Regions from separate parts of the Homo sapiens genome. Here region 2 is reported to be linked to region 1. Evidence: microRNA targets listed by miRTarBase, many of them from high-throughput screens and not tested one by one. Region 1 holds a microRNA gene; the other region holds the end of a gene's coding sequence.

Evidence for each region. The annotated mature microRNA hsa-miR-4720-3p reads UGCUUAAGUUGUACCAAGUAU and lies in region 1 at 2,681-2,701, shown strand. An mRNA with a match to its seed (bases 2 to 7 or 8) in the 3' UTR can be bound and repressed. Matches are read on the target gene's strand: a 7mer-m8 pairs with bases 2 to 8, a 7mer-A1 pairs with bases 2 to 7 and ends in A, and an 8mer does both.
Region 2: miRTarBase lists ORMDL1 as a target of hsa-miR-4720-3p. The part of its 3' UTR that is shown has no 7-base or 8-base seed match.

What each region holds. Positions count from the first base shown.
Region 1 is chr16:81,382,383-81,386,627 of GRCh38, forward strand. MIR4720 (microRNA 4720) reads left to right here and starts at 2,636; the gene lies at 2,636-2,711. GAN (gigaxonin) reads left to right here. Exons shown (of 11, transcript NM_022041.4): 11 at 1-4,245.
Region 2 is chr2:189,767,865-189,771,986 of GRCh38, forward strand. It overlaps ORMDL1 (ORMDL sphingolipid biosynthesis regulator 1), which reads right to left. Exons shown (of 5, transcript NM_016467.5): 5 at 2,403-4,038. The coding sequence ends at 3,903. Among named protein-coding and RNA genes, the nearest start is that of OSGEPL1, 7.1 kb to the left of the region's middle.

The DNA of each region.
Region 1 (4,245 bases):
AAGATCTTTGATTTTCTTTGTTAGTTAGCTATAGGAAGGTTAAGAATTTATTTACTAAGGTCGTAAGAACAGAAGAAAGTTTCTTTGAAAGAGAAACTGTTTTTTTATTTCAAAGAGCTTCATGTATACTTCCCTCTCTTATTCCATGTAATTAGTAAGGGAAAATAAACTATGTCTTAGAATGTTGAGGAAAGTATTTTGATAGCTTTTAATAATTCTTGAAATACTCTTTACTCTGTCTGTAGTTTTGAGAAATTACAGAAATTCATAGTATAAGGATGAGAAGGGGCCCATTTGCCCATATTTGATAACACAGACTTGGATTGAGTGTCTGTCATGCCTGCTGGCAGTTAAGTCTCAGTGGTATTGACTGCTAGGCATTTTCTATATTTTTTGCAAGTTAGCTGGTAAAACTTGGTAAAGTTTTGTGTTTTTCAGAAGGAACCCTATTATTATTTCCATTTTAAACATATTTCAATATTGTCTCATTGTAATAGTTCCATTTATGTGACATCTGAGGAATTAAATCATACTTCCAGATGGTTTGGTCTAATGTATACAGTTTAGGAAAGTTTATTCTTTTTTATTTTATTTTATTTTTTTAAATTTCTTTTAGAAACTGGGTTTTGCTCTGTTGCCCAGGCTGATCTTAAACTCCTGGCCTCAGATGTGGAGACCCAGCTGGGACTACAGGCATGAGCCACCACGCTCCGTAGAAAGTTTGTTCTTTTTCAGTTCTGTCATTGAAATTCTCTAAGTGATTGGATTTTTAAACCCCTTCCCCTTTTCATGAAATTAAACATCAAATAAATAAAACTACATTATATAATTATTTAGTCAGAAATGACTGTTGCCCTCTCTTTTTTTTTTTTTTTTTTTTTTTTTTTTGAGACGGAGTCTCGCTCTGTCGCCTAGGCTGGAGTGCAGTGGTGCGATCTCGGCTCACTGCAATCTCCGCCTCCTGGGTTCAAGCAATCATCCTGCCTCAGCCTCCCCAGTACCTGGGATTACAGGTGCTTATTACCACACTCGGCGAATTTTTTGTGTTTTTAGTAGAGACGGGGTTTCACCATGTTAGCCAGCATGGTCTCGATCTCCTAAACTTCGTGATCCGCCCGCCTCAGCCTCCCAAAGTGCTGGATTACAGGTGTGAGCCACCTCGCCTGCCCTCTTTTTTTTTTTTTATTTTGAGATTAAAACTAATTCTTTTAAAGTCACTACTCAGCTGAAATTTGGCCTGATTATAAATGTTGATAATAATTTCTTCCTGGCTCAACAAAGTTGTTGAGCTTCCTTCTGTGCACACATTGAAAGAAAACCAGAAATTGTACAGTCGTGATATGAATTAGAGAAGGAACAGGTGGAAAAGGATGGCAACACACAGAGTCCGGGGGACACACGGCCTTAAGATGAAGTGAACGAGTAGACACTGAATAGGATCCACGTAAATGAACGGCCATTTCAAATCATTCACATCCCAAACGGAGGTTCATCTGTCTTCTGGTTGGTGAATTATATTTATTAGGATCTTATTTTTAGCATTTCATTACAAGTAATAGGTTTGGGTACCTTATTTTTATTGTTTTTACTCATCAGTTATGAATAAGGCATACCTTAGAAACTTGGGTTAAATTTTTTCAAGTTATACCAGTCAACTTGGTTTAAATACAACTGTACTAACTTGCTTTATCATGTTTCCTGTTTAATTGGATGAGAATTACATGCACTTATTCAGTTGTTCTTTGTGTTTATAGGAAAAACTCTGTTCTCAGCTACCTCATTATGTAGTATTGTGCTTGATCCCCTGCCAATTGAGAAGAATTCAACACATTCTGTTCTTTAACAAAAGCTTGGAAGCAGGCAGTCAGAGGCCTTGAGGAATACAATTCTCTAAGGCCTGTTTTCCATTTTACTACTTAAAAAAAAAAAAAAAAGAAAAGAAAAAAAAGCACTTACAACCAGGAGGAATAATAATTCTCCTAGAGTTGCTGCAAACTGATTACTTGAAACTCAACTTGAACTTTAAAGAGTCTTTAAAAGGCTGTTTTCATAATGCAGAAAAGTAGTCTATTTAAACGCCACTGCTGTGTAAAACAGGGGGCTCGATTTCCATTCTTGTTAGCATCAGACAAGAAAATGTGTCTATCTGTCATCTGACCCAGTATTTGGGATTTGGGTGCTTGAGGATACTATTTTTTTCATTTCTTATAAGGTGCTATTGTTTCCCAGAAATCTTTAATTTTGATGAAAATCTACTCATTGCTAAGATCCTCCTCACTTAAAGTGTTTCCTCAGTGCAGAGTTGAGGTTGGCAGAACTATATAGAGTTGGATGATACTGAAAATCATGAATGATGTGATTTGTTCCATGTATCTGTGGAACATCCCTCACCTTCCTCCGGTATGCGCCTTCTGCACTCCACACGTGGTCGCCTCCATCCTCCCTAGTGTCTGTCAGCTTGCCTGGTCACCAAGTCAGGAGGAAGAAGATGAGGAGGCTCACCAGTTGTAGGCAAGACTCTTCCTCTCGGGAGATCTTGTAATAATGGCCCAGTTTCAGGGCACAGTTGTACACATTCTACTTAAATGGAGGAGTTCAGTGATGCCGTGGCCAAAAGAGTTATGCCCATTTCTAAAAGCCTGGCATATTTGGTATAACTTAAGCACCAGGTAAAATCTGGTGCTTAAGTTGTACCAAGTATAGCCAAGTTTAACTGTCGTTGTGTATTAATAAGATTTAATTTTTATGCTTGTGCTTTTCAGAGTAAAGGGCTTGCTTTCAATAGTAGAATGACAAAGCTTCTCCTCCAATGACAATCTGTTAGCACCCTGTTGACTTAGCTCAGGACATGAGACTGACTTAGCTCAGGACATGAGACATTTCCTGGAAGTGATTTCCATGAGAACAAAGGCTTATTCCTTTAACTTAAACCCCAAACTTTGTTATTTTAATTATTTTCAGGCAATCATCTTTATATACTTTCCTTACAAACCCAGTGGTTGAGAGCATAGGCCTTGGTGGCAGGTGCATCTGGGCTTGGGGGCTTCTGCCACACTTACTACTCTGTGACTTGGGAAGCTCTTAAGGCTCCCAAGGCTCCGTTTCTTATGTGGAAGAAGAATAGCAGGAGGACTCACCTCTGCGGGTTGTTGTGAGGATTAACTGGGTGATGACTGTAAGCAGCTGGGAGAGTGCCTTGTGTGCAGTGACCACTGTTGCTGCCACCATGATTATGTCACCTCTCAACATGGGGTGGTGGGAGGCCCTGTGGATGAGGCCAAGGCTGCCTGCACTGAGTGTCCCAGGCCTTATAGCTTTCCACATTCTCACGTCTGCTGCCACATGATATACAAGTAAATGTATTAGAAGTTGGTGTTCATAAAATACTTTTTTTTTTTTTTTTTTTTGAGATGGAGTCTCGCTCCGTCACCCAGGCTGGAGTGCAGTGGCGCCATCTCCCAGGCTCAAGGGATCCTCCTGCCTCGGCCTGCCAAGTAGCTGGGACTACAAGTGCACACCAGTATGCCCAGCTAATTTTTTGTATTTTTAGAACAGGTGTGGTTTCACCATATTGCCCAGGCTGGTCTCGAGCTCCTGAGCTCAGGCAATCCGCCTGCCTCAACCTCCCAAAGTGCTGGGATTACAGGTGTGAGCATCCAGCCAGAAAATGATTTGCTTTCTAGACCCATATCACCTCTCTCCATCTACATCTCTAGTATTTAAATTCAACACAATTCTAGATAGCTGAAACAGCCCAAAATATGTGTTTAGAATACTTAGAGTTTGTTATAAATAACCCTCTGTTTAGAATTTGCCCAGTGAAATTCTCTAATAATACTTAAAACTCTTTACTAAAGTTGAATTTTCCTTTTTTTTCATTGAAATAGCAAAGGTAGTAATCTGTATTGGTCAAAGAAACGAGATAATTCCTAGATCTCTGTTTTAGACCAGTAGACCTAACTGTGCTTTCTTAACTTGGATGTTACATGAAACTTAAAAACAAACAAATATGTGTTACAAGTACTTGTGTGTACGTGCATGTGTGTTTGTGCATGTGTCTGTGTGTGTGGAACTTTTGTACCTTTGCATAAAGAAGGTTATTTAACAAAGTGGTACAAACAGTGAACTACTTAATCCTTCTATGGTATCATACACTTCTTTTCCTGGTTAGGTTATGAGACTGGCAGAGGTAGGAGTATATAATGTGCTCAGCTTGTCTTGATTTCAATAAGACATTTGATAAAG
Region 2 (4,122 bases), not on the chromosome of region 1:
TTTTGAAAAAATTAAATACTATAAACAACTTCTGTGAGGCCAACATTCAACTTGAGATAAAATCATCCAATACAGTTGAAGCCCTGTGTCCTATATACTTGATACATTCAGGATTCTGACTTTGATGCTTATAATTCTCATGCATTCATTTGTAGCTATATGAAAATTTTTAAACCCAACATAACAAACTACTTGCTACATCACTGGATCTTTTTTACCTGGAACTGAAATTAGGCAGTAAAATAAAAATGTGATACATCTCATTCTTTTCTTTTTGACACAACAAAGGAGAGTTTATCTCTGCTATTCTACTTACCTTCCCCTTCCCTGCGCTGCACTACTCCAAACCTCCTTTTAGGGTATTTTACCTAGATAGGTCTTTTCAGTACTGAACTTGTTCACATTGCTCACATCGACATGTACTATCCATGTTATTGTTTTAGGAATTACTCTTTTCTGTCTATCCTGTTAGAAAGACTATTAAATTGCACTGGTTGACACTGGGTTACTCCATTTGTGTTCTTCATGACTAGCATGAGGCTATTTTTGGGTGATACTTACTGATGACATATATGATATAGAAGACACAGGAGAAATATACTGCATGAAAATCAAGATTCAGCTTTAGCTAGACAAGATGAATCAATAAACTAAAATCTAACAAGATGGAGTTCTATAGGAAAAATGTCTTAAGAGTTTGGTTTAATAAATCAATTTCATATGTGAAGGGTAAGCCATAATTTAACAGCACTACATATTGAAGATTTAAGGTTTTAGTGACATAAAGTGAATCAGTGATATGTGGTTGTCAAAATAAAAAACTAAAGTGGTATTAGGCAGCATTAAAAAAAAGCATCCAGAACAGGGGAAGTGGTACTCTTTCACAGCATATCTGATCACCTCTTGTATTTAACTCTTGTGCTATATAATAAGTAATAAACTGGAACTTAGAGCAGAATTACCAGGATAGTGGGAGAAATCTGAAACCATATCATATGGAAAATGGTGAAGGCTCTAGTAATATTTATTCCATGCTGTTGACACCAATTTAAAAGTTATCTTTAAATACTTGAAGAGTTATGTAAAGATTAGATTTTTGACTCGATATACAACAAATTGTAAATTCTATTACAAAAATAGAATATACTGTCTTATAAGTCCTCTTCTATTAATATTATTATTAAAACAGAACTAAATGGAAGGGTGGTAATTAATAAAGATTCAAGCTAAGGTAGGGGGCCCGGCATGTTGGCTCATGCCTGTAATCCCAGCCTGACCAACATGAGGTTGAAGCGGGCAGATCACTTGAGGTCAGGAGTTTGAGACCAGCCTGACCAACATGGTGAAATCCCATCTCTACTAAAAATACAAAATTAGCTGGGCATGGTGGTGCACGCCCATAATCCCAGCTACTCAGGAGGCTGAGGCAGGAGAATTGCTTGAACACAGGAGGCAGAAGTTGCAGTGAGCCGGGATCACGCCACTGCACTCCAGCCTGGGCGACAAAAAAAACCCGGCTCCAGCCATCTCAAAAAAAAAAAGTTAAGGCAGGGGGTTGAATTACATGGTGTCTAAGGGCTTCTCTAACTTAGCCTCATATAGCTCTATAAGCTAATTCATATAGGTATTAGTGAAGGAGATATTATTATGCCTCTTAGGATCTTTATAATTCAATAGACAATAACACCATAAACCTAGAAAAAGGATGGGGGCAGGTCAAAGGGACACAGCAGTCAGCTTGTAAGAGCTCCTAATGGTCAAAGCTGGAGGACAATTTGAGCAACAAATCATAATAATGGATTATAACCCAAAGAATGAAATATCCATAAGCCCAGAGTATAAGTGATTTAATAAGTAAATAAAGAAGGGACAAATCTTCCTTATAAAAAGATTCTAATAAATAATTATAGAATAAGGGAAACAGAAAATCATCACTAGAACTCCACAATAGTAATTGCTGCAAGAAAGATCCACCAATGAATGCTAAAATTTGTGGCATTTCTAAGCTCATGACTCCTTAGAAATTGCCATTATGTCTCCTGACTTGAAGTCAGGAGCATTTATGGCATGGCAATTTATTTTGTTCCAAGTAATAGTCATTTTTAGATTTTGTTTTAAACTGGAATGTAGGCACCAAAGGGAAGGGAGTTGGTTTTTCTTGTCTACAAACTATCCTCAATACCTAACATAATTCCTGTTACAGAGTGGGCCCTTCAAATATCTACTGAGTAAATATTTTTAAAACATTGACGGGAGAAAGCAGTGAAGAAAGCATGTCTAAGAGGGAGACTTCTATCTCTGAAGTATGTTAAAAAAATGTAAGCCTTTTGAGAGGAACTTTAAAATAAAGAAAAATGAATGCTTTTTGTTACTTTAATTTTACGAATTCAGTTGCTTAAAAATAAACTTGAAAAATGTCATTTTAATTTTGATGACTAAATTTGGAGGGCTTTTGAAATAATATTACACCAACGAAAAATTTTATTAAATTATAGATCACCAGTTATTTAAAAATACACGGGAAAAGACAGACATACAAAGGTAGTATCATACAACTGATTTCTAAACTCAATACTTTTGAGATACAAAACAATGATCATTACCCCCAAAAGTCAGTTTACTGACACGAATTGATGTTTAAGTTGGTCTGTAACTCTTTTCATTCAATTCTGTTTATAAATGTTACTGAATTTTTAAATTTTGTCCCATATCTGAACTTTGTTTTTTTTGACATGTTTACTTCTCAAAGTAGTATATAGTTATTTCTTGCAATTAATGTCAGCAACTATAAGAAGCTTTCCTAAGTCACAAGAATTCAATGTGGTTGCTGTTCTGGAGACAGTTACCATTTTGGGCTATATATACTAAAACCCACGTATTCAAAGGCAAAATATGGGGGTTGAGAGCAGGAGGACTAAGAAAAGAAAATGTTATCTTTTACTGCAGACCTGCCAAAAAAAAGACTCCATTACTTACTTTGGTACTATTGCTAGAGACGTTGTTTCTGCCAGACCACAGGTTGGCTATATGGTTGTTCCTTTTATATTTCCTTTTTCAAATGATGACAAACTTTCCCAATTAAATTGTTCAACCAAATAAGCAGACACCTTTAAATTACCATATATTTTTTAGTTGCTTGAAAGAAATTAATTATTTTCTTAATTGGTTTAGCAGCCTTGTGTCTGGAAAAGCAGTAAAACCTGCTTTGTTCCAAAATTAGAACACTTGACTCAGAAGCTGCTTGTAAGACACTTGGCTATCTTTTATCACCAATCAGTCACAAAGGTGAACCTCCATGAACTCTGTAACGTAATAAATGTAAAAATGGCCTCATTGACCAATACACAATATTAAGCCAGCAAAACCAAAAAAGTACCCTCATAAGTGGGAACTGGCTTGTATAAAACAAGAGGATATACATCCGCTTACATAAAACGAGAAATATGTACGGTAATAAAAATAATCTTTAATAAACTTGTATAGAGAGGATTCCGGTTTACATGTAAGTCTGCTTTAAATAACCACAGCTGAATGACTGGAAATGTTCTTTTCTTAACACAATGCCCATTCATTATAAGTTAAGCTGGTCCTAGTTTCTTACAAATCTCTTATTTCCTTGAATTTATCTACTACACCCTCACTGTGATGCCCTTTAACTTATAAGCTGGGCCTGCCCAGCCTGCTTATAAAGCCCCTCTTCAGAAATGTACCAGGTGTATTAAACAGAGGCATCATTTAATGGAAATCTGCACTTCAAAACAGCACTTGAAGGACCAGCCATTGGCCCTCCAATGTAAATACTTCTCATTTCACATTATCACAGAAACAGTGCAGTTTACTAACCACTCCTTCCTTATAAGAAATTCAGTAGCTGTAAAATTTTTTTTCAGTTTCAAAACATTTCAATACTTATTAATTCCAAAGATCCGAACACCATGTAGTTGTGGCATTTTGGGAATTAGTACACTCAGGAGAGAAGCTGTGTTTAGGATGAAGTGAGTTGGATCATACTTCGTATAGAAACTTGCCAGAAAATATCTGTAGAGATAAAAGTTAAGAATATATATAACATCCAAAAATAAAATTACTTGGAACTTAAACAATTTTAAAGGTAGAAAAAAA